Linked DNA regions of Homo sapiens. Each later gene encodes a partner of the first gene's protein in a complex. Each region holds a gene or a part of one and is shown on either strand. Other genes may lie near its edges.

Region 1 (15,218 bases):
GCCCACCTTGGCCTGCCAAAATGCTGGGATTACAGGCATGAGCCGCTGTGCCCAGCCAATTGGTGTTTTATTTATTGTATCGAATGAGAGCAAGAGAAAAATATTGATGATGACTAATGTTTTGAGCCTAGTGACCGGAAGTTGGTACGATTAATCGTTTGGGGAGGGAAGGGTAACAAGTTTGGGTTTCTACAGATTGAACTTGAGGTGCTTGAGAGATAATCAGGTGCATTCATCTCCTAGTGATCTTATTTAGGTTTATAGCTTTAAATAGCCTTTGTACACTAATAGCTGTCCAGTTTATATTTCTAGAGAAACCTCTTCCTTGAACTACAGGCTAATATTTCAACTATATACTATATATCTCCACTTGGATACCTAATATTCTGATCCACCTTCTCCCTGGATTTCTCCCTCAGCCTTCCCATCTTGGTAAATGGCAACTGAGTGATTTCTCTCTTGCTGTCACACTTGACATTTAGTTCATCATTAAATCCCATCGGTGCTAGCTTCAAGATATCCAGATTTTGATATTTCTCAAAATCTTTCCACCTTCCATTTTGATCTATGCCACCACTATCTCATGCCTGGATGATTGCTATAGTGCTGGTCTTTGCTAATCCTGCCTATTCTTTCTCCTTTTGTCCTTGCCTCCCTTTGTTTGGTTTGTTCTCTCAGCAACCAGAATAATACTTTAAAAACATTAGGCCAGGTGCAGTGGCTCACACCTGTAATCCCAGCATTTTGGGATTACATTAAGTGGAAGGATTGCTTGAGCCCAGGAGTTTGAGACCATCCTGAGCAACATAGCAAGACTCCATCTCTACAAAAATGAAAAATAAAAAGAAATAAATAGGTGGGCATAGTGGCACACGCTTTTATGCTTTTGGTCCCAGCTACTTGGGAGGCTGAGGTGGGAAGATGCTTGAGGCCGGGAGGTTAAGACAATCCTGAGCAACATAGTGAGACACCATCTCTACCCAAAAAAAAAAAAAAAAAAAATTGGTGGGCGCGGTGGTGTGTGCCTTTGGTCTCAGCTACTCTGGAGATTGAGGTGGAAGGATTGCTGGGGCCCAGTAGGTTGAGGTTACAGTGAGTAGCAATTGAGCTGCTGCATTCCAGCCTGGGTGACAGAGTGAGACCTTGTCTCAAAAAAGAAATTTAAAAAAATGATAAAAAGGCTGCATGCGGTGGCTCATGCCTGTAATCCATCCCAGCACTTTGGGAGGCTGAGGCAGGTAGATCACCTGAGGTCAGGAGTTCCAGACCAGCCTGACCAATGTGGTGAAACTGCCTCATCTACTAAAGATACGAAACTGGCTGGGCGTGGTAGTATAGGCCTGTAATCCCAGCTGCTTGGGAGGCTGAGGTAGGAGGATTGCTTGAACCTGGGAGGCAGAGGTTGCAGTGAGCTGAGATGGTGCTATTGCATTCCAGCCTGGGCAACAAGAGTGCGACTCTGTCTCAAAAAAAATAAATAAAATAAAATAAAAATAATTAGCTGAGTGGCCGGGCGCAGTGGCCCAAGCCTGTAATCCCAGCACTTTGGGAGGCTGAGGCAGGTGGATCACGAGGTCAGGAGATCGAGACCATCCTGGCTAACATGGTGAAACCCCATCTCTTCTAAAAATGCAAAAAAAATTTAGCCTGGCGTAATGGCGGACGCCTATAGTCCTAGCTACTCGGGAGGCTGAGGCAGGAGAATGGTGTGAACCCGGGAGGTGGAGCTTGCAGTGAGCTGAGATTGTGCCACTGCACTCCAGCCTAGGCAACAGAGCCAGACTCTTTCTCAAAAAAAAAAAATAATAATAATAATTAGCTAAGTGTGGTGACGCATGCCTGAAGTTCCGGCTTCTTGGGAGGCTGAAGTGGGAGGATTGCTTGAGCCTCAGAGAGTTGAAGTTGCAGTGAACTGTGAGCACATCACTGCACTCTATCCTGGATAATAGAGTGAGGCCTGTTTCTAAAAATAAAAATAAAAACATTAATGAGGTTGTGTCACTCCTCTGCTTAAAGTCTTCCAGTAGATTTTCATCTTGGTGTAAAAGACAGAGTCCTTATATAATGGCCAGTAAGGCCTTCCAGGTTTGGCTTCCCTGCTGTTTTTCTGACCTCGTCTTATGGCACGCTGTGTCACTCTTTCAACACTAGCCACAACTGGCATCCTTGCTGTTCCTTAAACTCACCAGTCAAGCTTCCTCTTTAGGGACTTTGCACTTGTGCCTTTTGCGTGGAAAATTCCCTGTATATCTACATGGCTCCTTTATTTCCTCCAAGCCTCTGTAACAAATGTCATATTTATATTGTATATAAACATACTATATACAGTGTTTGTTTCTTCACTTGTCTGCCGTCTTTTCCTTTACCGGAGTGTAAGCTGCCTGGAGCTCAAAGGCAGGAGCTTGGTCTGTTTTGTTCACTGTCCTTGCCTCTCTTTCAAGACAGATTTTCCACCTCTACATGTGTCTGTGCTGAAGCAGAAGGGTTCATTTTTTCCCTCCTAATTTTAGAAAAATTCATAAAAAGTTCTTTGAGTGTTAAATTTGTCTGCTGAAATTATTTTTAGAAAAAATGTAATAAAATGTAATAGAAGCTAATGGTGTTTGCTGAACTTAATCTTTGACTTATTGTTCTAGCCACTATCGAAAACGATCGGCATCCCGGGGTCGCTCTGGAAGTCGGTCTAGAAGTCGCTCACCCTCAGACAAAAGAAGTAAACGTGGAGATGACAGACGGTCTAGAAGTAGAGATAGAGATAGGAGGAGAGAGAGGTCTCGTAGCAGGGATAAAAGAAGATCTCGGTCAAGGGACAGGAAGCGTCTGAGGTAAGACATTAATTAATTTCCAAAAGACGAGTGATAAATTGGGCCTTCTCGGCTATAGCAGGCTTCTTGAAAAGTATGTTTTCAACTGGAGTTTGGTGGCCCAATTGCAGGCCCTTTTCTTTATCCCCTACTTGTTTGATTAGACCCAGAAGGATGTGCCTACAAAGACTCTATCAAACAGTGTTTTTTTTTTTTTTTAATCTTTTTTGAGACAGAGCCTCACTCTGTTGCTCAGACTGGAGTGCAGTGGTATCATCTCTGCTCACTGCAACCTCCACCTCCTGGGTTCAAGCGATTCTCATGCCTAAGCCTGCCAAGTAGCTGGGATTTCAGATGTGCACCACCACACCTGTCTAATTTTTGTGTCTTTAAAAGAGACGGTGTTTTGCCATGTTGGCCAGGCTGCTCTCGATCTCCTGGCCTCATGTGATCCTCCCACCTTGGCCTCCCAAAGTGCTGGGATTACATGTGTGAGCCACCGTGTCCGACCATCAAACAGTGTTTTTAGTTTGGAAACTTTAGGCTGTATTTCCTGTAACCCAAAGACATCCCTTGAAGCCCTCTGAGGGACATACAAAATGAAGTAAAAAGTAAAGTAATAAGTTATATTCAAGAGGGTTCTATTCCAATTCTGCTCCAGGAGAGCTGACCAAGGTGTTAATTTTCTTTCCTTTTTTTTTTGCCACCCTTGTTGAAATTTGTAAAATTTCCTTCCTCTCTCCCTCCTTCCCTCCCTCCCTTCCTCCATCTCTCTCTTCCTTCCTCCCTATCTCCTTCCCTTCCACTCTCTCTCCCTTCCTCCCTCACTCTTTCTCTCTTTCTCTTTCTTTCTTCATTTTGCTAAACAGTGTGTTTAGAGCAGCCTCTAAAGCAGGCAGAAAAAGGAAACAAAGCAGACCCTCTCCAAGCCTCTTAAACTATTTTAATGAGCTGTCATAGATTTAAACTAAAGAGCGCCTTAATCTTTTTTTTTTTTTTAATTTATTTTTTTTTTGAGACAGAGTCTCACTCTGTCACCCAGGCTGGAGTGCAGTGGCACGATCTAGGCTCACTGGAACCTCTGCCTCCCGGGTTCAAGTGATTCTCATGCCTCAGCCTCTTGAGTAACTGGGATTACAGGCATGCTCCACAAAGCCTGGATAATTTTTGTATTTTTAATAGTGACAAAGTTGGCCAGGTATGGTGGCTCATGCCTGTAATCCCAGCACTTTGGGAGGCCAAGGTGGGTGAATCACGAGGTCAGGAGTTTGAGACCAGCCTGGCCAACATGGTGAAACCCCGTCTCTACTAAAAAAAAAAAAAAAAAAAAAATTAGCCAGGTGTGGTGGTGCATGCCTGTAAACCCAGCTGCTCGGGAAGCTGAGGCAGGAGACTTGCTTGAACCTGGGAGGTGGAGGTTGTAGTGAGCCGACATGGTGCCACTGTACTCCAGCCTGGGCGACAGATCAGGACTCCATCTCAAAACAGAAAAAAAGAAAATAATCTTCTGTGCACACCACACCCAGCCAATTAAAAAAAGCTTTTCATAGAGATGGGGGTCTTAACTGTGTTGCTAGTGGCCTCCCAAAGGGTTGGGACTACAGGTATGAGATACCATACCTTGCCCAGTTTCTCATTAAAATAGGAAAGGAAGACAAGATTGTGTTGTGAGTGGATCATAGAAAGAATTTAACTTTATCCTTTTCAGACATTGGAGTACATTGTTGTTACGTAGGATTCAGGGAAAATATTCACCCGTGACAATGTGGATAGCATTTTCACATTTTGTGGTCCTAGGAACAATTTCACACAATTAATTCAAGTACTTAAGTGAAAATGGTTATTTAACATTTGGTCTTTGACTTTTGGGTGTGAAAGTAGAATCACAAGATTTTAGAGCAAGAGGGATTTTAAAGATGTCTAGTGAAGTCTCCATATTTTATAGATGATGAAACTGAGACCCAGAAAGTTGGAGATCTGACCTTCATCATGTCATTAGTTACCAGGAGTAGCAGGATAGAAATTCTTGCCTCTTCATCTTCAGATTAGTGATCTTTTAGTAGACCCATTATGCCCATCCTTATACTTAGGTTTAGGCTATCTGAAACTAGATATTCTATCTTAGACCATCGATTTTCAATCGATGTTAATTACAGACTTATTATGGTTTTTTCACAAACATCTTTATGAAATTAGTATTCTCTGGCCTGGCATGGTGGCTCACGCCTGTAATCCCAGCACTTTGGGAGGCTGAGGCAGGCAGATCACCTGCGGTTGGGAGTTCGAGACCAGCCTGACCAACATGGAGAAACCCCATCTGTAAAAATACAAAATTGGCTGGGCATGGTGGTGCATGCCTGTAATCCCAGCTACTCAGGAGGCTGAGGCAAGAGAATCGCTTTAACCCAGGAGATGGAGGTTGTGGTGAGCTGAGATTGCGCCATTGCACTCCAGCCTGGGCAACAAGAGCAAAACTCTGTCTCCAAAAAAAAAAAAAAAATTAGCCGGGCATGGTGATGCACATCTGTAATCCCAGCTGCTGGGGAGGCTGAGGCAGGAGAATCACTTGAACCCAGAAGGCAGAGGTTGCAGTGAGCTGCAATTGTGCCACTGCACTCCAGCCTGGGTGACAGGTGTGAGACTTTGTCTTTAAAAAAATGAAAGAAATAAATTAGTATTCTCATTTTTTTCGTTGAGCACTTATAAGACTTGGCTTTACTTCATTGAGACCTCCACCTTTAATAATGGTAGTGATTAAGATTCTTTCAATGTGGGACAGAATCCCCTGATCTGAAATAGTAGCTCCATTTGGTCATAGAATAAATGAAAAGTGTCCCCCTTTCAGACGTTCCAGAAGTAGAGAGAGAGACAGAAGCCGAGAGCGAAGAAGATCTCGAAGTAGAGACAGGAGACGCTCAAGGAGTAGAAGCCGGGGCCGGCGATCCCGATCCTCCAGTCCTGGAAATAAAAGCAAGAAAACTGAGAATAGGTAATGTTATCATTGGGCTGCATCTATAGTGCAGACTGGGGACTGCTTCCCTTCTCTGCGCCTTTTTTTTTTTTCCCTGTAAGTTTGTATTTATAGAGAATTAACTGCATTTGGCTCCTACCATGAACTGTTGGCAGTGTTTTATTTTAATTGGCTATAATGTTTATAATTCAACTGGAAAATAATAGATTCTGTCAGTTTTAACATTCAATACATTGTATTCTTACTTAATACATAACTGTCAATCAGAAATGTATTTTATAGACATCTTTGTAGAAACTCTGTCATTTTCTTTTCAGGCAGGGTCTCACTCTGTTGCCCAGGCTGGAGTGAAGTGGCAAGAACATAGCTCACTAACCTTAAACTTGTAGACTCAAGCAATCCTCTCACCTAGGCCTCCAAAAGTCCTGGGATTATATGAAGAGGCAGACATAATATCCCAGCTAATTTTTATGTTTTTAGTGGAGATGGGGTTTTGGCATGTTTGCCAGGCTGGTCTCGAACTCCTGACCTCAAGTGATCTGCCCACCTCGGCTTCCCAAAGTGCTGGGATTACAGGCCTGAGCCACCGCGCCCAGCCAAGACTTGTCTTAAAAGTTAAGAAATTAGGCCAGGCGCGGTGGCTGACGCCTGTAATCCTTGCACTTTGGGAGGCCAAGGTGGGCGGATCACCTGAGGTTGGGAGTTGGCGACCAGCCTGACCATTGTGGATAAACCCCGTCTCTACTAAAAATACAAAATTAGCTGGGCGTGGTGGCGTATGCCTGTAATCCCAGCTACTCTGGAGGCTGAGGCCGGAGAATCGCTTGAACCCAGGAGGCAGAGGTTGCGGTGAGGTGAGATCATGCCGTTGCACTCCAGCCTGGGCAACAAGAGTGAAACTCCTTCTCAAAAAAAAAAAACAAAAAAAAGTTAACAGAAATTAAGACAATGTGCAATTTGTTTAGCAGTGGACAGACAGATTAGTGAACCATGTAAAGAGCCCAGAAAGGCATCCATACACATGGTAATTTGATAGATGACAGAGGTGATGATGTAATAAGTGAAGATTTTTTTTTTTTTTTTAACAGCCAAAGTCTCGTTCTGTTGCCCTGGCTGGAATGCAGTGGTGCAATCTCGGCTCACTGCAACCTTCGCCTCCCGGGTTCAAGTAATTCTCTTGCCTCAGCCTCCCGAGTAGCTGGGACTGCAGGTGTGTGCCAACATGCCCAGCTAATTTTTTGTATTTTTTAGTAGAGATGGGGTTTCACCGTGTTAGCCAGAATGGTCTCGATCTCCTGATCTCGTGATCCACCCGCCTCGGCCTCCCAAAGTGCTGGGATTAAAGGCGTGAGCCACCGTGCCTGGCCAGAAAAATTTTTAAATTGCTCTAGGGATATCTAGTATCCTTTTATGAAATAAGACTGCCTACCTTATTCTGTGTACAAAAAGCAATTCCAAGCAAAGACCAAATTAGATGGCAAAATTCTAAACCTTTTAGAAGTTTGTGCCAGAGAGTATCTTCTTCTTCACCTCTAGGTATCTTACATCAAATCTGGAAGGATTTCTAAACTACTTTAAAAAGCACCAATTATAAAGGAGAAAAAAGGTTGACTAATTTGATTACATTAAAATTAAGAAATTTTATTCATTATGAGATGCCGTAAGTTGGGGTGCGTAAACAAGTTGGGTTTATTCCAAGAATGGCAGGTTATTTTAACATTAAAAAATCATTAGAAGTCTGGGTGAAGTGGCTCACGCCTGTAATCCTAGCACTTTGGGAGGCCGAGGTGGATGGATCACGAGGTCAGGAGTTTGAGACCAGTCTGACCAACATGGTGAAACCTCGTCTTTACTAAAAGTAAAAAATTAGTCAGGTGTGGTGGCACACACCTGTGATCCCAGCTACTCGGGAGGCTGAGGCAGGAGAATCACTTGAAGCCGGGAGGTGGAGGTTGCAGTGAGCCGAGATTGCGCCACTGCACTCCAGCCTGGCCGACAGAGAGAGACTCCGTCTCAAAAAAATCCCCTAAAATCATTAGAACATTAGAACATTCGAAATGCATGTCCCTTGGGATTTTAAACGTTATTACATATATAAATTATCTTGCAGAATATTAATATATTGGTCTGTTTCTTCATTTATCACATTTTAACTATCCTACCTATAAACAAACTATATTGTTTGTATGTAGTATGTTCAGTTTTTCTTGGGTTGAATTTCCAAATATTTAGTAATGCTTCCCATTAGTGTCATGGGATTAATTTTTTTCGTTATATTTTCAAGGTTTTTTTTTTTTTTTTTTTTTTGAGGCAGAATCTTGCTCTGTCGTCAGGCTGGAATGTAGTTGTGCAATATCAGCTCATTGCAACCTCTGACTCCCTGGTTCAGGCTATTCTCCTGCCTCAGCCTCCTGAATAGCTGAGATTACAGGCACGTGCCACCATACCCAGCTGATTTTTGTATTTTTTAGTAGAGACGGGGTTTGTTTTTTTTGTTTGTTTTTTTTTTTTTTTTGAGGTGAAGTTTTGCTCTTGTCTCCCAGGCTGGTGGGCAATGGTGCAATCTCGGCTCACTGCAACCTCCGCCTCCCGAGTTCAAGTGATTCTCCTGCCTCGGCCTCCCACCCCTGAGTAGCTGGGATTACAGGCGCCTGCCACCAAGCCCGGCTAATTTTTGTACTTTTAGTAGAGACAGGGTTTCACCATGTTGGTCAGGCTGGTCTAGAACTCCTAACCTCATGTGATCCACCTGCCTCGGCCTCACAGAGTGCTGGGATTACAGGCGTGAGCCACCGCGCCCGGCCGAGTTGGGGTTTCACCATATTGGCCAGGATGGTCTCGATCTCCTGACCTCGTGATCTGCCTGCCTTGGCCTCTCAAAGTGCTGAGATTAGAGGCATGAGCCACCATGCCCAGCCTCCAGGTGTTTGTTAATGGAATATGAAAACACAGTTGACTCTTAGAAGTTTATTTCTTACCTAAATATTGGAATACAAGTCTAATAAGTGTACTTATGTATTTTTTGTTTTAATTTAATAGAGACGAGGTCTCACTGTATTATCCTGGCTGGTCTCGAACTCCTGGGCTCAAGTGATCTTCCTGCCTTGGCCTCCCAAAATACTGAGCTTACAGGCATGAGCCACTATGCCTGACCAAATTTTTTTTTTTTTTTTTTTTTTTTAAAAAGAGACAGGGTCTCACTTTGTCACCCAAGCTTGAGTGCAGTGATGGGATCATAGCTGACTGCAGCCTCGAACTACTGGGCTCAAGTGATCGTCTTGTTTCTGCCTCCTCAGTAGGTAGGACTGCAGGTGCACACCACCATACCCAGCTAATTCTTAGTATATTTTGGAAAGATTGGATCTTGTTATGTTCCCCTGGCTGATCTCTTTAACTCCTGTTTTCAATTGATCCTCCTGCCTTGGCTTCCCAAAGTGCTGGGTATATAAGTGTGAGGCACCTTACCCCACCTGTAAAAGTATTTTAAGGCCGGGCGAGGTGGCTCATGCCTATAATCCCAGCACATTGAGAGGCTGAGGTGGGCAGATCACCTGAGGTTAGAAGTTCAGGACCAGCCTGGCCAACATGGTGAAAACCTGTCTCTACTAAAAATACAAAAATTATATGAGTGTGGTGGCTGGCACCTGTAATCTCAGCTATTCGGGAGTCTGTGACAGGAGAATCGCTTGAACCCGGGAGGTGGAGGTTGCAGTGAGCTGAGATCGCACCATTTCACTCCACTCCAGTCTGGGCGACAGAGTGAGACACTGTCTCAAAAAAAAAAAAAAAAGTATTTAAAAATGAATGTTTCTAAGTACAAATGAATGACATTTCTCTTGTCTCTTTTATTTTTTTGGTAGATCTAGGTCCAAAGAGAAAACTGATGGTGGGGAAAGTTCTAAAGAGAAGAAAAAAGACAAAGATGACAAGGAGGATGAAAAAGAAAAAGATGCTGGCGTATGTTTATTAACTTAAAAATAATTTTCTTTCTTTCTTTTTGTCTTTCTTTCTTTCTTTTCTTTCTTTCCCTCTTTCTTTCTTTCTTTCTCTTTCTTTCTTTCTTTTCTGTCTGTCTTTCTTTCTGTCTTTCTTTCTGTCTGTCTCTGTTGCCCAGGCTGGAGTGCAGTGGCACATTCTCGGCTCCTGAGTTCAAGCAATTCTCCTGCCTCAGCCTCCCAAGTAGTTGGGACTATAGGCATGCGCCACCATGCCCAGCTAATTTTTGTATTTTTAGTAGAGATGGGGTTTCACTGTGTTGGCCAGGCTGGTCTTGAACTCCTGACCTTGTGATCCCCCTGCCTCGGACCCCCAAAGTGCTGAGATTACAGGTGTGAGCCACCGTGCCTGGCCATCAAACTTGTTTCTATGGGCCAGGCACGGTGGCTCACGCCTGTAATCCCAGCACTTTGGGAGGCCGAGGCGGGTGGATCATGAGGTCAGGAGATCAAAGCTATCCTGGCTAACATGGTGAAACCCTGTCTCTACTAAAAATACAAAAAAAAAAAAAAGATTAGCTAGGCGTGGTGGCAGGCGCCTGTAGTCCCAGCTACTTGGGAGGCTAAGCCAGGAGAATGGTGTGAACCCGGGAGGCAGAGCTTGCAGTGAGCCGAGATTGGGCCACTGTACTCCAGCCTGGGTGACAGAGCAAGACTCTGTCTCAAAAATCAAAACAAACTTGTTTCTATGCCAACAAATTTTTTTCTTTTTAATGCTGTAAGCTTTATTTTAAAATAACCAGATGTGAAAGATAAAAAAGGAAGATTAAATAATATTTACCCCTGTGGGAAAATTTTCTAAAAGAAGTTGCACATCTATACGCAATATCTGTTTTTACATACAAAGTGCAGTCTTACCATATAAACATTATCAATTGCCTTCCAAAAAATTTGTATAAATTTCGACTTAAGGCTGGGCACAGTGGCTCGTGCCTGTAATCTCACCACTTTGGGAGGCCAAGGCAGGTGGATCATCTGAGGTCAGGAGTTCGAGACCAGCCTGACCAACATGGTAAAACCCCGTCACTACTAAAAATACAAAAATTAGCCAGGCGTGATGGCGCATGCCTGTAATCCCAGCTACTTGGGAGACTGAGGCAGGAGAATCACTTGAACCTGGGAGGCAGAGGTTGCAGTGAGCCAAAAATCACACCATTGCACTCCAGCCTGGGCAACAAGAGCGAAACTCTGTCTCAAATGTGAAGGCCAGGCATGGTGGCTCGTGCCTGTAATCTCAGCAGTTCGGGAGGCCAAGGTGGGTAGATCACGAGGTCAAGAGATTGAGATCATCTTGGCCACCATGGTGAAACCCTGTCTCTACTAAAAATACAAAAATTAGCTGGGTGTGGTTGTATGTGCCTGTAATCCCAGCTACTCGGGAGGCTGAGATAGGAGAATGGCTTGAACCCCGGACTTGGAGATTGCAGTGAGCTGAGATCCCGCCAATGCACTCCAGCCTGGTGACTGCGAGACTCTGTCTGGAAAAAAAAAATGTAGACTTAAGAATTTAGACATGAGGCCAGGTGCTGTGGCTCATGCCTGTAATCCCAGGAATTTGGGAGTTCAAGCAGTTCCCCTGCCTCAGCCTCCTGAGTAGCTGGGATTACAGGTGCATGCCACCACGCCCAGCTAATTTTTTGGTATTTTTCGTAGAAATGGGGTTTCCCCCTGTTGGCCAGACTGGTCTTGAACTCCTGACCTCAGGCAATCTGCCTGCCTCTGCCTCCCAAAGCACTGGAATTACAAGCATGAGCCACCGTATCTGGCCTATTCATTTTTTTGAGACGGAGTTCTGCTCTTGTTGCTGAGGCCGGAGTACAATGGCGTGATCTCAGCTCGCTGCAACCTCTGCCTCCTGAGTCGAAGCAATTCTCCTGCTTCAGCCTCCTGAAGGAGGAACTACAGGAATGGGGAACCATGCCCAGCTAATTTTTGTGTTTTTAGTAGAGACAGGGTTTCACCATGTTGGCCAGGGTGGTTTCCAACTCCTGACCTCAAGGGATCCTCCAGCCTCAGCTTCCCACAGTGCTGGGATTACAGGTGTAAGCCACCATGCCTGGCCATAAACTTGTATTTTTTTAATAACACAGAGTCTCCCTTTGTTGCTGAGGCTGATCTCAACCTCCTGTGCTCAAGGGATCCTCTAGCCTCAGCTTCCCAGGTAGCTGGGACCACAGACATGTACCATGTGCCTGGCCATAAAATTTCTTTATCATGTTGATGTCGTTTATTTTCTAACTTGTAATAGAAAATTGCTTTTCATAGAGGCAATTTTGGAGGCGTTTAGGGGATTAAAATTGAGAATAACTGGGAAACTTTGCTTGCTAATTACTTTAGTTTCTGTTGTTAGGAAGAAATAAAGTTTATGTGTGCATAATGCTTGTAAGTAAAATGAGATTGATTTATAGTGTTTGAAATCTATCTTTTGGCTTTCTTATTTGAAGATGCTTTTTTTGTGATTTCATTTTGGTAATATATTTGTGTGTATATTTATAAAGGTATGTGATCTAAGTCTACCCTGAGGGGTTTGTATATATGCCTTTTTTCCCCTTCTTTATACTTTGAAGAACTTACTGGAATGTCACTTGGAGCAAAATTATTAAATTTGGTTTTGCTTTTTATTTTCCCCCATCTCTTTCTTTCTTTTATTCCCCCAAGAACTTTGACCAGAATAAGCTGGAAGAAGAAATGAGAAAGCGAAAAGAAAGAGTAGAAAAATGGCGAGAAGAGCAACGTAAAAAGGCTATGGAAAACATAGGAGAACTGAAAAAGGAAATCGAAGAGATGAAACAAGGGAAAAAGTGGAGTTTAGAGGACGATGATGGTATATTTTTTAGCCTAATAGCCTGTATAACACCTCATGTAGAATATTATATGAATAATATTTCATAAGGGGTTTTTAATCTTTTTTATTGTTGAAAACTATGCATAATATGCTGTTTACCATTTTCATCATTTTCAGGTTTCAATTCAGTGATAAATACATTTGCAGTGTTGTGCAGTCGTTACCACTGTCTGTTTCCATGACTTTTTCGTCATTCCATACAGAAACTCTGCACCTTTTAAATAACTCTATGACGCCTTTTCTCGCTACTTCTTGTGACCTTTGCTCTATTTTCTGTCTCTGAATTTGTTTAGTCTAGCTACCTCACATAAGTGGAATCATAATACATATTTGTCTTTTTGTGTCTGGCTTATTTCACTTAGCATAATGTCTTCAAGGTGCATGTATGTTGTAGCATGTTGGAATTTCCTTTCTTTATATGGCTGAATAATATTTCACTGTATATATATGCCAAGTTTTGTTTGTTCATTCACCTGCCATTGGATAATTTGGTTGTTTCCACCCTTTTGTTATCGTGAGTAATGCTCCTGTGACCATTGGTGTATAAATATCTGTTTGAGTCTCTGTATTGAGTTCTGTGAACTATATACCCAGAAGTGGAATTGAGATTGTAAAAGCTCCTTTTAATATTTATGTTGTAATTTGAAATATAGAATTGTGTTTAGTAAGCATCACTGATTTTACTTTAGAATGAATCATTGAGTGTTATTGGGCATAGCCAGTAAATAGTTCTTTAATATATTATACCAATGTGAACGTTAGTAAGGAGAGTAAATTAAGGGCATGCTTTCAAGTGCCTCCTCTGATTTTTCTTTTCTTTTTCATGTTTTTGGAGATAGAGTTTCATTCTCTTGCCTAGGCTGGAGTGCAGTGGCACAGTCATAGTTCACTGCAGCCTCGACGTCCTGGGCTCAAGTGATTTTTCTGCCTCAGCTTCCAGAGTAGCCACCATGCCTGGCTAATTTTGTCTTTTTCTTTTTTCTTTTTTGACAGAGTCTTGCTCTGTCACCCAGGCGGCACTGCAGTCTCCGCCTCCCAGGTTCAAGCTATTCTCTTGCGCCTCAGCTTTTCAAGTAGTCAGGATTACAGGCACCTGCCACCATGCCTGGATAATTTTTGTATTTTTAGTACAAAAATATGTTGGCCAGGCCGGTCTTGAACTCCTGACCTCAGGTGATCCTCCCACTTTGGCCTCCCATAGTGCTGGGATTACAGGCGTGAGCCACCATGCCCAGCTAATTTTGTCATTTTTTGAAGAGCCAGGGTCTCGATATGTTACCCAGCTAGTCTTGAGCTCCTGGGGTCAAGAGAGCCTGCTGCTTTGACCTTTCTCAGTGTTGGGATTACAGGCAGGAGCCACTGTGCCTGGCTGCTGATATTTCATAATTTAGGATGGAAACATTTCCCTTCACATCTGATTTTGACTTTCGAGATTTTAGTAAAGTAGGAGATTGTAGAATTTTATAGGAAAATGGGATTTTGGTCCATTGTCTGTGAAAGTTCCAAAGAATGGTTTAAATAGATTCTATCTATAAGTAGTCATGATGTCTTTTTTTTTTCGCTCTGTTGCCTACGCTTGAGTGCAGTGCCGTGATCTCGGCTCACTGCAACCTCCACCTCCCAGGTTCAAGAAATTCTCTGCCTCAGCCTCCTGAGTAGCTGGGATTACAGGTGTACACCACCACGCCCAGCTAATTTTTTTGTATTTTTAGTAGAGACGAGGTTTCACCACACTGGCCAGGTTGGTGTCAAACTCCTAACCTTGTGATCCGCCCGCCTTGGCCTATTTTTAGTAGAGATGGGGTTTCACTATGTTGGCCAGGCTAGTCTCAAACGCCTGACCTCGTGATCCACCTGCCTCGGCCTCCCAAAGCAGTGGGATTACAAGTGTGAGCCATTACGCCCAGCCAAGTAGTCGTGATGTCTTAATTCTAGACAATCTAATCTTTTTTACATAACTGAGATATGCTATCTTCTGTGATTGAAAGGTAATTGAAAGAAAAATACAGTTGACCCTTGAACAACTTGGTAGCTAAGCACACCAACCCCCACACAGTGAAATATCCATATGTAACTTTTTACTCCCCAGAAACTAAGCATTACCTGCTTACTGTTCACCAATAACATGAACAGTTGAATAACACATACTTTGTATGCTTTATGTATTGAATACTGTATTATTTTAATATGGTAAGCGGGAGAAAAGAATGTTATTAAGAGAATTAGAGGCTGGGCGCGCTGGTGCATGCCTGTAATCCCAGCGCTTTGGGAGGCTGAGGCAGGTGGTTCACAAGGTCAAGAGATCAAGATCATCCTGGCCAACATGGTGAAACTCCGTCTCTACTAAAAATACAAAAATTAGCTTGGTGTGGTGGCGCACACCTGTAGTCCCAGCTACTCGGGAGGCTGAGGCAGAAGAATCACTTGAACCTGGGAGGTGAAGGTTGCCGTCAGTGAGCCGAGATGGTGCCACTGCACTCCAGCCTGGCAACAGAGTGAGACTGTCTAGAAAAAAAAAAAAAGAATTACGAGAAAGCAAAAATATACTTACTGTCCATTAAGTTGAAGTAGATCATCTTAAAGGTCTTCATCCTTGTTGTCTT
Region 2 (15,218 bases), on another chromosome or scaffold:
CCCTACAAAACAGGAGGTGGTCATTATGCCTAGGGAGCTCGGAGCCAATCAAGAACTATGCTCTGCTATCCCTAGGCCTGTCCAGACAATGTCACCTGTGCATCTGGGCTCCTGGATTCTGGCCTGATTCACCACTGATAACCCCTTGTGAGGTTGTACAAGTCACCCCCCTTTGCAAGATTAGGTTTCTTTTCTTTAAAACAATCTCTATCTTGTCTCTTGGTGAGTCTGGAGCTAAACTGAAGAACTTTAGTGAAAATACTCTGCACACCCCAAGGGAAAAGAATATGACCTGCAGGGTCGGAAGACCTGGATTCCCAACTCAGCTTCCCAGCTAACAAGGTTTGTCTGAGCCTCAATGTCATTATCCACCAGACAGGGTTCATGACTGTTTTGAGTATTGAGGGGAAGTGTCTGTAAAGTGCTTAGCTCTATCCTGGTACTTAAGCGTTTAAGAAATGGGAACTATTATTAAAAAACAAACAGAGCGGGTGCAGTGGCTCACACCTGTAATCCCAGCACTTTGGGAGGCCAGCGTGGTGGATCACTTACGGCCAGGAGTTCAAGACAAGCCTGGCCAACGTGGCGAAACCCCATCTCTACTAAAATACTAAAAATACAAAAATTAGCTGGGTGTGTGGTGCACACCTGTAATCCCAGCTACTCCGGAGGTTGAGGCATAACAATCACTTGAACCCGGGAGGCAGAGGTTGCAAAAACAAAACGAAACAATTTGGTCAAATACATTGGGGGAGCAGAGGCCGGGGCTGTTTCTGTCTCCTTACTGCAGCCTGACAGCTTCCCTAGTGATTAGCAGTGACAAGGTCCCCACCTCCCCTTATTCCAGGACCCCAACAGGATCCCACCCAACAGGCAGACCTCCTAAGGGCTAGAGCTGGGGAGGAAGGCCACAGTAAATTTTAAAACACCACACACAATTTCCTCCAGGTGTCTAGGGTCCCTCTCACACGTGAGTTGTGCTGCCCGTGCTGCTGGGTCTCCCTGTTGGCCTCTGTAAGTCTACACCAGAGGGACCACCACAGTCACCACCTCTGCCACCACTACCATCACCATCACCACCAATGCTCTCTGCTCCTCCAATTGTTGGCCCCACATTCACTGTGTGCTCAGAAGCCCTTAGATGCCTCCAACAGCTGACCTAGGCCCCAGAAGCCAAGACTGGGAGTGAAATAGGGTCAGTTTCGCAAGTGTACGACAGGGGCGGGACTGAACCCTCCAGCTAGAAACTTCAGCAGCATTCTGGGATTACATACCTTGTTTCTGCGCAGGAACTCCTCCTCTGGCATGAGGCTGTCCTCTGTCTTCAGTTTTTTGGAGGTGGGCTCATCTTCCATGGGAGGTGGGGGATGCACAGGGGGCATTGGGGCTGGAGCTGGGACAGGTGCCACAGGTGGAGCAGGCACAAAGGCTGCAAAGACAAGAATAAGCAGCCCCATGAGAGGGCAGAAGGGGCCCAGGACTCAGGGCTGATGAGAAGTTGAGAGGGAAGGTTGCAAAGGTTTCCTCTAGTCAGAGGTGTCAAGTGCTGTTCCCTGCTAAGTCTGGCAGCCAGCAGGTTCCCTGGCAAGGGGACCTGGGAGGCTGCCCAGATTGGACAGCAGAGGACTGCAGGAGGGGCAGGACTGATGGATGGAGCTAGTGCCAAGCAACAAGCATTTCTCAGGCCTCTGAGCCTGTTGGGGACCTGATCCCTGAATGCACAGACACTGGCTACACCATTTCAGCCTCTCATTTCTACCAGGAACGGTGGCTCCCAGCTCTAGGGTTGCGGATCTTTCAATGGGAAGCCAGGGCTCTCCTCTGGGCTGGATACCCTGCTGGAACAGCTGGCACTAGCATCAGCCACTGCTCTGCTGACAGTACTTGGCCCGTGGTCCCTGAACTAATGGCCTGGAAAATGATGCAAGAGATACTGACCTGTTGGCACAATCATGGGGGGTGGGCGGGGGGCCATAATAGGAGGGGCCGAGGGAGGCATGGGCACCACGTTGATTCTGGGCGCGTGGATGATGGGCGGCATGGGGGCGATCACTGAGCCTGGGGGCAGCCGGACCACAGATGCCATTGGGGGCCGGGGCATGACGGGTACTGCGGAGACAACTGTAGTACGAACTGGAGGTGGCATCTGTGCAGGAAAGAGACCCACAGATTACAGGAAGCCAAAGTTGGACTCCAAGGTCACACACAGTTGGCAACTGGCTGCCTGCAGCTCTGAGGATGGAGGTTAGACAACTACGTCCTGGCCCCCTGGGACTGAGAAACTGTGGCCTACACTGGGCGTCCAATAGGAACTGAGCTGCTGAGAGCCCGAGGATGACACTCTCTCTACTTGGGACTTGGCGGGTCAAACTCGACCTGCTACTTTGGCAAACACTGAAAGAGTCACTAAAGAGGCTGAGACCTTGGCCAGGCACAGTGGCTCATGCCTGTAATCTCAGCACTTTGGGAAGCTAAGGCAGGCAGATCACCGGAGGTCGGGAGTTCGAGACCAGCCTGACCAACACGGAGAAACCTCATCTCTACTAAAAATACAAAATTAGCTGGGCATGGTGGCGCATCCCTGTAATCCCAGCTACTTGGGAGGCTGAGGCACGAGAATCACTTGAACTCGGGAGGCGGAGGTTGCGGTGAGCCAAGATCATGCCATTGCACTCCAGCCTGGGCGACAAGAGCAAAACTTCATCTCAAAAAAAAAAAAAAAAGAGGCCGAGACCTCGACTAAGTCTCTCCTGGAGACAAGCCAACAGTCCTCAAAGACCCAATAAGCCCTGCAGCCCTTCTCTGACGCCAACTGGTTTCTCATATTTGCCACTTACCTCCCTCCCTGTTCCAACCCTCCTCCACAAACAGATCAAGAGAGAGGTTCCCACTTGCATTTAAAGGGCTCTTTCTCTTTCAAACTGACCCACCCAACACTCAGGCCCCACTAAAAGGCAGCTGCACTTCTCAGCCAACAGTGTCCGACCTCAAGAATGAAGCTCTAAAAAAGTCAGTTCCAGGGTAGATGCTGGCTTACTGTGGGTGGTCGGGGCACTGAAGTGATGGGTGGAGCCGAGCTGGGGATGTTGGTGGCTGAAGATGGTGGCGGTGGCTGTTGAGGGATTTCATTGGGCTTGCTGGGGCCAATCTTCTCTTTAGTGTCATCCTCTGGCACCAGGCCTTTGGCCTTGTGAATGGCCTCAATCTGCTCCTGGAGGGTGATGTTGGCCTGGGCAGCCTGCTGGGTCCGGGCCATGCTGCCTGAGTGGCCATCCCAGGTCACCTGCAAGTGAAAGCAAAGCCACAATGCTTCTGGAACTAAGACCAAGTATGGAAGACGGGGGGCAGAGAAGGCACTAGGTTCCACTTTAGCCGCACCTTTTCCTCTGGCTTCTGGATCTCCTCCTCACCGATCTTCTTACCAATGGCTGTTTCCTCTACACCGAAGATGTCAGTACGCCGCTCAGCCAACTGCTTCAAGCTGCTCTCAATATCCAGACCTGTACAGTCACAAAACAGAGGCAGAGGATAGAAAGAGAAAATAAACCAGGTGTCCTGACAAGAGAGCAGCTTTTCTGGTGTGCAGGGAGGAGGCTGGTTCCATGGGATGAGGGTGACTCAGGGCCCCAACTCTTGTCCTCTGGGCTCGGGGAAAGCTGCCCGATCTAAGCCTATAAACCCAGTGCTTGGGCAACCCCTCTGACTTAGAAAAGAACGGTAGGCCAGGCACAGTGGCTCATGCTTGTAATCCCAGCACTTTGGGGGGCCAAGGCAGGAGGATCACATCTGAGGTCAGGAGTTCGAGACCAGCATGGCCAACATAGCGAAACCCCGTCTCTACTGAAAATACAAAAATTAGCCGGGTGTGGTGGTGCGTGCCTGTAATCCCAGCTACTTGGGAGGCTGAGGCAGAAGAACTGCTTGAACGTGAGAGGCGGAAGTTGCAGTAGCCAACATGGAGCCACTGCACTCCAGCCTGGGAGACAGAGTGAAACTCCGTCATTCATAAATAAAACACATAAATAAATAAGATGGTGAGTTAGAGAGGGCAACTGTGTGGAAAGGGCCACATGGTGTAAGTGGCAGAGTCAAAACTAGAAGCCCAGTCTCCCACCTGTGGCACAGTTCCTGCCCCATTCCAAAGAGCTCATGGTACTCCAGCCATCAATGCTCTCCTTCTAAACAGCCACAGGAAGCCCTTCCAGCTAAAGCCAGAGCTTGCTCTGGGATGTCAACAGGCACATGGCATCTCCTTCAGTGTCTGCCTTTGGGGAATTTCTATGGGGAGTTCTTCTGGAAAGTGGGGAGTTCTCTTGCAATATCATAGAGTGCAACTCTCCTCAAAAGCTTTTGTTGACCTCAATTGTTGCTTTCTATGTTTGCTTAGAAGAAGATGGCTGTAATTCGGAGACTACCATGGGCTCTCCTGGAACCCCCACCTCACCTGGTGCGTACACCTCATCATCGCTCTGCTTCTCACGGATGGAGCGATCCCGCTGCTCCAGCCAGCGAGGGTCAAGAAGTCCAATGCGCATGTGTTCCTGCATTTTGCTGGCGGGGATCTTCTCCCCAGTAATGGGGGACACAAGATACTCATCTGGAGCAGGGGCTGGAGGCAAGGGCTTGGAGGCTAAAAGGAAACAGATGTTTCAGTAAGAACACTGGTGGGCAGCCACCTGAGTTAAGAGGGTGGTATTTCATGCGTGCATCATTCATCAAGGCATCTATTCAGTGCCACTCTTGTACCTGGCACTGTGAAAGGCACTAGGGCACCAGAGATGACTGGGCCCTGTTCCCACCATGAAACCTGTAACAGACGGGCTTGCAATGCTTTTACAATAAGCTGCACCTCAAGCCCTCCTAGAAAGACGGGTGTGAGGAACACATGAGGGCACACAGGACTTCCTGGGCAGCCCGAGGGTTGGGAAGCAGGCCCTCCCTACCTTTGGGATCATAATCCTTGCGGACAATGACTTGGTCTGGAGTTGGGGGCAGAGGTGGAGGCATGGGTGTCTCTGGGGGTGGGGGCACTTTCTGCCCTTCTTCTTCATCATCTGAACCCTGAAAAGCAAAGCAATGGCAGGACTCAGAGAGGGGCTGAGGCCACCTCCCTGTAGCTGAGCCTGGCAGGTCTCTGGGTGGCAAGGAGCCTTGGCCTCTGCCAGCCAGCGTCCATGTGCTAAGCCTCCCAGGGCAGCTGAGGCCAGCCGGCAGCAGGCCAAGCTGCTTCCTCACAGCATGAATGGGAGTGCTGAGGCCACGGTCCTAGCACTCCTCCCAGGCATTTCCAGCAGCTGGCACCAGGCAGTCCCAAGAGGCCAAGGGCACTTAACATGCCGGGGGGGGACAGTGCCAAGGGGGCGAGGGGTGGGGGCGGCGAGTCGCCAATCAATGGTAGCTGCTCACACAGCAATGCTGGGAGGGAGAGAAAAAGTCATTTCCCACAGACAGGGGCCCTTTCTTCTCAGGCTGTGCACAAATTATTTCCGAGTGGGGGAGAACAGTCTGGTTCTGGAGACTCCATGCCTGCTTAGAGGGCCTGGCTTGAAGGGGGTAGGGATGCCTGAAAGGAAGCGTGGGCTACATTTAGAAAAGCTCTGGGAGCTTGGAGCCCAGCTGAGAGCTCAAAACAGAACAGGGTAATGCAGTGAGTTCCCTGAGGGCTGGCACGAGGCAGTGAGAGCAGGCTGTCCGGGCCAGGGAGGCGGCCACAGAACAGGTCAGCACAGCTTTTAGATCCTTGCCTATGAATGAATCTTTGTTGCCGGAGCTGGAAAGAGGCTCTGTGCTGCCTGGACTTGGGCAGCTGTATGGCCTTGTTCAGGACCCACGCCTCCTTTCAAGGCTCACAGGGGAGCTGGATCTGACTGGTGGAGAGCACTTCGACCTCCTGGGGCTTCAGGGGAAAAGGTCATCCTGCAGGCCTGCCCAGCAGCTTACCTCATCCATATCTTGTACTTGGGTGTCCTGGTCCAGCTGGGAAGGAGGCTCCTCCGCCTTCTCCTGTTTGTCATCCTCCTCATCAGACTCGACCTCCATCTCAACTTCCTCACTCTCCCCAAACTTTTCATAGCGCTCCTGAATGAGGATTCGGGCCCCCAGCTCCTCTGGCGTGGTGGGGGGAGGGAAGTTCCCTAGAGGGTGAGCCAGAGGCAAAGGTATTCCTTATCAAAGACCCACCTATTTGCCCTGTCTGAGCTCCCCAAGGGCTGGGGCCATGTCTGTTTTCTCTCCAGCTATCTCCAGAGGCCCATCTAGGGTCTGGCAAGTACGTATTGAATCTAAGTTGGGCAAAGTGGTAGAACTGAAGTCTTTTGGGAGCAGGGAGGAGACAGCACTGATAAAGCCCTCTGAGAGATTCTACTGCTCTCTGGGAACACCTGCACCAGGTTTCCCGGGAAGTCTGAGTTCCTGGCTCCCCATCTGGAGTCACTCCTCACAGACCTACCTTGCTCATTGGGTTGGAAGTCCACTGTTTCCACCACCACAAAATCATGCCAGTCGATCTGAGCATAGGCCACCCGCTCCTTCTCCTTCTCCTCTTCTTCCTTCTTCCTCTCACGTTCCTGGAATTTGGCCCATTCCACTCGGTAACACACCTGCAGAGATGGGAAACAGCTTGGTGCTACGCTGAAGCAGGGTCTGCTCCTGATGAGGCTACCACCTCCAGGGCTTTCATCAAAGTCAGCGCCTCCTTCGGAACAGAATGGAAGTATGGTTCCAAACTATGGCATTTGCACCTGGTTCCACCCAGGTGCAGAGTTGGGACAGAATGAAAATTCCACCCTCTGATCTGCTTGGGAGCTGGCCTTCTGTCTTCTAGCTAGAGTGGAAAAGAGGGAGATATATTGAGGCTGAGAGCAAAGCAGAAAGTTGTGGTATGTTGGGAAGCATCCGGACTCCAGGTTTCTTTGGCCTTTGTAGCCAACAAAGCCTTTTCTCCCACCATTCCCATGACTGGAACATAACAAGGTCCTGCCTCAGAGACTGTTTTCAGACATAAAACAGAACCAACCACCAGTAACTGGTTGCAAGAAATGCTATTCAGTTTACCTGATCCAAAACTTCTCGGGGGTTTTCAGCCTCTTTCTTGAGCTTTGAAAATAAACCTTTGGGTGGAATCAAGATCTGAAATACAGAAGAGTTAAAGCAACTGTCAGTGCTTTACAACGCAGTACAAAGAGGCAGCCTTCCTGGGCCTGTGATAAAGCACAGGAGATGAGGAAGCATGGGATTCTGTGTCCCAATCCCAGCTCCACTTGGCTGTGGGACTTAGGGCAAGTTACTTAACCTCAGTAACTTGATTTCCTTCTCCAAAATAATGGCACCACCACTCAAAGTTGGCACCATGAACTTAAAAAGGTGGCTTCGAGGATTAGCAGGAAAGCATGCAAAGCACTAGCCGATTACCCAGAACACGGTCAGTATGAGACGGCTGCTTTCATGACACTGACCTGCTCTCATCCTTTCAAAAACACTACGCAGGTCCCCCCTGACTATCCTATTCAGAACCGCAGCGTACTTGCCCCACCTCCCTCTATTTCTGCTCCCTGCTTTCTCTCTGTAGTATTTAGCACCATGTAACAGACACTGACAATGCACTTGACTCCTCCTCACTAGACTAGAAACTCCATGAAGACAGGGATTTCTCTTTTGTTCACGATTACATCTCCAGCCCCCTGAATAATGTCTGACAATGTATACTTACTGAGAGAACAAATGCTGCCTTTGTTCTAAACAGCCCCAACAGCTTCTACTGCCACTGGCAAAGTGGCTCGGCCCTATCCCAATCCTCCTTCCACCTCTACCCCAAGAATCTATCTGCTCAGTCTTCCATGGCTAGAACAGACAGCAGGAACCTCAAGTTACAGTGGTAAATGCCAATACCCAAGTTCTGAAGAAAAAACAGGAAAGTAACAGAATAAAAAGTGATCTGGGACCTTTAACCCTGGAAGCAGTCCACTGGGAGAAATTAATCCAGGGTTCATTTAAAATTGATATTGCATATTTATAGAAACCCTTGGGCCTTGGGCCTTGAATGACTGTTATTTTAGCTACCATACTAGCTTCTGGATTTGGTCATTTTCTAAACACACACATTGTTAAAATTCTAATTATGTACTTAAAAGTGAGTAGAGTTAGGAAATTCTCAAGTCCTTTCAAGTCAGATCTTTGAGGTGTTGTTTCTGGATATGAAGAAGAGATGTACAGACCATCCCACTGTAAAGGGAAGGAAAACAACCTCCATGACATGTGTAGCAAGAAAAATGTGCCACAGGCAAAGCTGTCAGTGCACTTTGCAATAAATTAATAATCTGATTATTTTAAATGCCAGAACTGACTTGTCCTGATTCTTGATTGCAGCTCTGTCAAATGATAATTGAGTTCTTAGGGTCTGGAGTAAAAATGCCAGAGCTCAAGCCCCAGCCCTGCCACCTCCTAGCTATGTGACCCTGGCCATGCTAACTTCACTGCACCTCAATTTTCTCTTCTGTAAAGTGAACATAGCAATAGTGGCTACCTTATAGGCTACCGGAGATTAAATGAGAAGATGCTGCATACATAATTTCTTAGTGATGTTAGTTATACTGACTTACATGACATCAAAGTGTCTCTCAACACCTATTTAAATGCTGTTTCCAATTTAAGGCACTTTATAAGCTGAAGAACCAAAGTTTTAGGGTCAAATGTGGTTTAAATCTCAGCATAGTACTTACTAGCTGACAGACCTTGAGTACGTGACTTCACCTTTCTGAGCCTGTTTCTGCTTCTCAAACATGGGGGGAAAACACCTCATGGCTTCTTGTGAGGACTAAGTTAGGTAAAAGGAGGCAACTCTTAAAGGTTGGCTTCTTCTCAGGGCCTTACTAGGCAACTGAAAACGGAAATGCACTTAAAAGCAGCAAGCACCACGTGGCCTTGTCACATAGCAGGCAATCGCCTAATGGTAGTTAGCAAGCATGTATTTCCCTTCTCTTTAGAAACCGGCAGTCTGTGTTGCACTTAAAGAAATAACTGAATAGAAATCAAGGTTTTACATTAAACTGGGATTCAAAACATTTGCTCAGAGGCCCCATGGAGAAGCGATGTCCTTGTAGACAGTGAGTGGACACAGTGCTTCCAAGCATAAGATGTTTTCCTTTCCTGGGCCCAGGACCCCAGCCCCATCCTGCCCAGGCACCTTGGTGTACTGTTCCACTAGCTTCGTGAAGTAGTTGAAGAGGCTGTGCTGTGGGCGGAGAAAGTCAAACTGGTAGTTGCGCTGCTCTTTCTGCATCAGCTGGGTCAGAAACTGGCGCCCATTCCTGGCCACAAACTGAGCCGTCAGCTTCACCACATCCAAGTCGAAGGCTGAGATAGAGGGAGGATCAGCAATGAACTCAAACTCAGGAGGAGGCTCTTTGGGCACGATGGTCTCTTGGATTACTTGGGCTTGGACCTAAGATGCAAAGGGAGTATGAGGCGAGAGGCACAGGGGTGAACAGGCTCCAGGGGAGGGGAGGGGAGGGGACATGGGCATGCACCCCTCAGCAGGATGCTGTGAACCTCTAGACTTCTGTTAATTATGCACACACCACTAGCACTTGGTGTGAGAGAATTCTAAATCACAAGAGCATTGACTTCCCAGCCAACTATGGCCTCAACTTCCTGAATGGCTGAGTGAGAACCATTCCCCTCTGTATCTCTGCTCCTGCCTTGAAATTGAGGGCCAAAACTGGGTGACAGAAGATCCAACAAGAATAGGACTTATTAAATCCCATCCAAGAGGGATGGATGTGCAGAAGGCCTACATGTGTGCAGAAAACCCCACTGTACAAAGTGTTTCCATGACCTCCGCATGAACGATGAGGTAGCACAGGTACTGTGAATCCTCTTTACAGATGAAGAAACTGAGGTAGCCTGAGGTCCTAGGCCTCATTGCAACGCAAGGTCTTAGAACCTGACTTCAACCTTTATAGCCCACTGCAAAAGGAGGGACTGCCTTTTCCACCATGGTTCAGGAGTGCAGAAGGCAGGTCTGGACAGGAGGAAAAACATGTCAGCCTCTCTCTTCATTCATAATCCTAATAGTCCCTAGTGCTGGGCCTCAGCACAGGGAAGGTGGTATCAGGGGAGGCCAGGATGGAGGGGTCCTGGGAAGAAGAGATAGAAGGGAAGGGATGGCACAAGGAGGAGCCCACAGGCCACACTGCATCCTTCAGCACAGCCAAGTAGGAAGTGCTGCCCTCACATCACGGCACTGCCCTCACACCCTGAGCAAGGCCTTGAATAAATCACACGTCCCCCAACTCTCAGGTTCCTCATACAGCCTCTGTGAGGAGTCAATGAGACAAGACTCCTGAAGTACCAAGCACAGAGCTTGACAAGCAGTGCTCGGGAAATGCCAACTAACATCAGTACTTTGCTGTCTGGGCCTCGGTCTGCCTCTGAGAGATGGGGATAACGACCTCACTTCTCTCCCTGGGTGGTTGTGAGATTTGGAGTTAATTGTGTACTCCCTCCCTATCCCTGTTTCCCTCTCAAGCCCTGCGTAAGTGAAGGGGGCACTGGGCTCCAAACCTTCTGGGGCAGCTGCTGCTGGGTGGTCTGCTGCTGCTGCTGCATGACCTTGGGGATGGCGGCGGACGGCTCCTGAGCCTTCCCTTCCTTGAACTCGCTGACCTTGTGGCGGTAGTAGGCATGGTAAGGGTCATTGGGGTTCAGAAAGTTGAACTTGGGGTTGTTGATCTCGTTCTGTCGGATCCTAGCTTCAAATTCAGGCCCGTTTCTGGAGGAAGAAAAAACAACAAGAATAAACACCACTCCCTTGTGCCTGCTGTGATCTAGAACACTGCCCATTGGAACGTCCTTCTTGCCACCACCCACTGCTCAAACCAGCCCATCCCTCAGCAGACGTCCTCCTCTAGCTTCCTGGCATTGGCGATCAGTGCCATCTGCCTCATTCAGCTTGAACCAGGCCACCTCTGCCACAGGGTTTCCCTGAACCCAGTCATTCCTTAGCTCCTTTTCCAGTTCTGCCATTTCCAAAACCATCTAGGCTATCGCTCATTTCTTTTAATAAAATTTACTTTAAAAAAAATCTATTTAAGATGGAGAATACATATTACTACTTCAAATAAAAAAAAATCAGTATGCCTTTACCAACAAAAGGTAGTCAAAAGTGAACATAATGAAAACAAAGTAATACTGTCAAAGTTTAGCTGGAAGTTTGCTGAGACTAATTCTCTTAGTTCAAAGGGGTAGCAAGTGCTGGAGAGGTGTAAAAGGTACATGAGCACCAAACCTAGACTTTGTCCTCTGAGTAACAAGAAAGACTGAAAGACATGAAAATTTAGTTGATTTGAGCCTGGGCAACAAGAAAAGACCCTAACTCTACAAAAAAATATAAAAATAAATTAACTGGGCATGGTGGTGTGTGCCTCTAGTCCCAGCTACTCAGGAGGCTGAGGTGGGAGGATCACTTGTGCCCAGGAGTCTGAGGCTGCAGTGGGCTAGAATCGTGTCACCGTATTCCAGCCTGGAAAACAGAGCAAGACCCTGTCTTTAAGAAACAAACAAACAAACAAAAAACAAATAGTTGGTTTAACGCCTTGTCCAAGTACTCCCTAAAACCACCCCCATTATACTGGTGAGGCCCACACAGGAAACATCCTCAGCAAAAACCCAGACTCGTACAGCTGTATAAGGCACCTTCAGATGACAGGGGTGTGGTAAGATCAGCAGGGAGGTCTCCAACCACTGTCTGTACCTGGGATGGTTCCCCAGATATGCCCCATGTCCCCAGCAAGCCTTCAAAACCTCAGGATAATGAAAAAATGTCCCTATAATGATGTTTAGGGAACCCTGATTTTTAAAATGTCCCAACAGTAATATTCAAAGTGCCACACTTATATACAACACCTGTGTCAGTCAGAAAGTACACGGACCTTAAAGACACAAGATATGAACACGTTCAAGTCTCAGGTTCACTGCTGACTCACTCTGACCCACAGCAAGTTACCAAACTACTCTTTGCTTCCATTTCCCCATGTGTAAAATGCAGCTAACACCAGTTTCCCTTTCTACCTTGAAACATTATTGAGGAGATGCCAAAGTGTTTTTGTTTTATAGACAGGGTCTCACTCTGTCACCCAGGCTGGAGTGCAGTGGTACAATCTCAGCTCACTGCAACCTCCACCTCCTGGGCTCAAGGGATCCTCCCACCTCAGCCTCCTGAGTAGCTGGGACTACAGGCATATACCACCATGCTCGGCTAATTTTTTTTTTACATTTTGTAGAGACGGGGTTTCACCATGTTGCTCAGGCTGGTCTCAAACTCCTGCGCTTAAGCGCCTTGGCCTCCCAAAGTGATAGGATTATAGGCGTGAGCCACTGAACCCAGCCCTCAAAGTCTTTTCAAATCGTACAGTGGCCTGCAAATGCAAGGGGCTAGGAGGGGTTGTTCCATAAACATTGTCTGTGGGGCCTTCCATTGCTCCTCTGGCGAGAACCTTGTACTTAGAACTGCCCCAAACACACCAAGGCATGGCCCCGGCATCTGGTGCCAGCTAGCCAGCTCCACTCTTCAGACTTTCATATCCCTGGCCTGTGAGTTTAAGAGGGGGTGGGAGCCCGGCACAGTGGCGCACACTTGTAGTCCCAGCTACTCAGGAGGCTGAGGCGAGAGGATCACTTGAGCCCAGAAGATCATACCCAAGCCTGGGCAACAAAATGAAATTTCACCTCTGAAAACAAAAATTTTTTAAATTTTTTTTAAGACAGATGGCAGGAGACAGGGTACAGGCAGTGCTGTGCCCCAGATCAACCACCACAGCAATTATGTGCCACACTAGTGATCGACACCCAGGCTGGCTCCTCAGCAAGTCGTGGTCATACCCTGCCGTGTAACTAACACCATGAGGTCTCAATTTGACAGTATATTAGTCTAACTGGAACCTCATGCTTTGGAAAAAAAATTCTCCCTACTCCTTAAATAATGCAAACCACACATAAGAATGAAGGTGAATGCACACTTAAATCCTGCTAAACTAGGCCACTATACCCAGCAAATGCCTCGGGCAGACAAAGGGCTCCTGGAAAAAGGGGCCCTGGTTGTCTCCTGTACCACTGCCTAAGCCATAACTTTACCCCATCTGGGAACAATCTGAAAAATAAAACAATGAGAAGGCTTGGCATGTTCATTCCAAGCTATTCAGTTGCTTTAAATTAGCTTAACGTTAATTTTAGAATCATACTCTCCACCAGAAGGAATAGATTTCAACAGAAAAAGACATGATTCTGACTCAACCCAGCTGGTGGGACTTTTTAAGGGTAATTTCCACTTCAGTTTCTTGACAGGAACATGCAGGAAATGAAAAGGCCTAACCTAGCGAAAAAACTTTTGGAAAACCGCTCAGTTGTGCATTTCTACTGCATGCTCCATAAATATACGTGAACCCAGGAGAAGTGAAGCACAGAGTTCTGCATGCCTGCTTTAACTCGGATATTGGTCTCTTTGTTGCAATGTAAACGATAAGTTCACAGATTTTATTTATTTATTTACTTTTGAGGCGGAGTCTCGCTCCGTCACCCAGGTGGGAGTGCAGTGGCACAATCTTGGCTCACTGCAACCTCTGCCTCCCGGGTTCAAACGATTCTTCTGCCTCAGCCTCCCAAGTAGCTGGGACTACAGGCGCCCGCCACCACACCTGGCTAATTTTTTGTATTTTTAGTAGAGACGAGGTTTCACTATGCTGGCCAGGCTGGTCTTGAACTCCTGACCTCAGGTGATCTGCCCACCTCAGTTTCCCAAAGTGCTGGGATTACAGGTGTAAGCCACCACACTGGCTCACAGATTTTAGAAATGCCTACAAAAGCAATCACCATAGCTAAAAATCAATCTAGGGATGTGCATGGTTTTGGATTTTTTTCTTTCTTTTTTTTTTTTTTTTTGAGATAGGGTCTTGCTCTATCGCCCCAGGCTGGAGTACGCTGGCATGATCATACCCTTGACCTCTCAGGCTCAAGTGATCCTCCCAAGTGGCTAGAAATACAGATATGCGCCACCATGCCCAGCTAATTTTTTTATTTTTTGTAGAGACAGGGGTCTCACTATATTGCCTACACTGGTGTCCAAGTCCTGGGTTCAAGCGATCCTCCCACCCTGGCCTCCCAAAGTGCTGGGATTACAGGCGTGAGCCACCTAACCTGGTCATATATATTTAAAGGGACCTTGGATATCCTCTTATTTCTTTAGCAGCAGAGGATGGCACAAAATTATTGGAAAGCTACTTGGCAAAATGTTTAAGAAATCTTTTAAGGATGCTCTTTTAGCCAATAATGAGCCACACAGAATTTTCTTCTAAGGAAACGATCTAAAAGGGAAAGAAAATGCTCAGAGATTTCCCCACAGCTTAATTTGCCAAAATGAAATGTTGGGAACAGGCCAGGTGCGGTGGTCACTGCCTGTAATCCCAGCCACCTTGTGGTGGCTGAGACATGAGGATCACTTGAGGCCAGGAGTTCAAGACCAACCTGAGCAACACAGAAAGACCCCATCTATACAAAAAAACTAAAAAAAATAAAAAAAATAAAAAAAAAATTAGCTGGGTGTGGTGGCAGGCACCTGTAGTCCTAGCTACTCAGGAAGCTGAGGTGGGAGGATAACTTGAGCCCAGGAGTTCAAGGCTGCAGTGAGCTGTTATCATGCCACTGCACTCCTGCCTGCGTGTCAGAACGAGACTCTGTCTCTAAAAAAGAAATGTTGGAAACCTCCTCCTCTAAGGAAAATACAGAAATGGTGGCCAAGTCAAGGAAAGCCTTTCACCTCTACATGGTGCATCCCCTTAATAAAGGACCACAGGGCATTATGAAGACCATGGAGCAAAATGGAAAAATGCTTACAACACAGAGTGGAATATCTTTACTAGTATTACAAGGATCTAAAAAAAGGATTCCAAGGACAGAAGGAAACAGAAAAATGTGAAAACAGCTGGTAGACACTACTCTGGTAATGAGAATATGGTGATTCTTCACCCAACTCCCCTTTTCTGTATATTCTGTTTTTAAAGTATCAGGGGAAAAGGGGAGGCATGAACACTGCTAAGAGCCATTAAACATTTATCTTAAACACAACACTGTCTAAATCTGACATGACCCAATCAACATCATCACAATGTTCAATCAAGCACAGAGAAGCTTTCAACCTAATACTCAAAGGTAATCAAAGCCCTTGAAAT

What was found.
Region 2: DDX46 (region 1) and SF3A1 share a complex: the UniProt entries of both Homo sapiens proteins name them as parts of the 17S U2 SnRNP complex.

The regions. Positions count from the first base shown.
Region 1 is NC_000005.10:134,761,268-134,776,485, forward strand, and holds part of DDX46 (probable ATP-dependent RNA helicase DDX46), read left to right. Parts: intron 1-2,636; coding exon 2,637-2,825; intron 2,826-5,649; coding exon 5,650-5,793; intron 5,794-9,635; coding exon 9,636-9,732; intron 9,733-12,428; coding exon 12,429-12,594; intron 12,595-15,218. UniProt on the Homo sapiens protein: Component of the 17S U2 SnRNP complex of the spliceosome, a large ribonucleoprotein complex that removes introns from transcribed pre-mRNAs.
Region 2 is NC_000022.11:30,335,752-30,350,969, forward strand, and holds part of SF3A1 (splicing factor 3A subunit 1), read right to left. Parts: intron 10,769-15,218; coding exon 10,561-10,768; intron 9,440-10,560; coding exon 9,182-9,439; intron 7,129-9,181; coding exon 7,054-7,128; intron 6,600-7,053; coding exon 6,449-6,599; intron 6,135-6,448; coding exon 5,941-6,134; intron 5,062-5,940; coding exon 4,944-5,061; intron 4,631-4,943; coding exon 4,445-4,630; intron 3,501-4,444; coding exon 3,379-3,500; intron 3,284-3,378; coding exon 3,038-3,283; intron 2,147-3,037; coding exon 1,939-2,146; intron 1,430-1,938; coding exon 1,275-1,429; intron 3-1,274; coding exon 1-2. UniProt on the Homo sapiens protein: Component of the 17S U2 SnRNP complex of the spliceosome, a large ribonucleoprotein complex that removes introns from transcribed pre-mRNAs.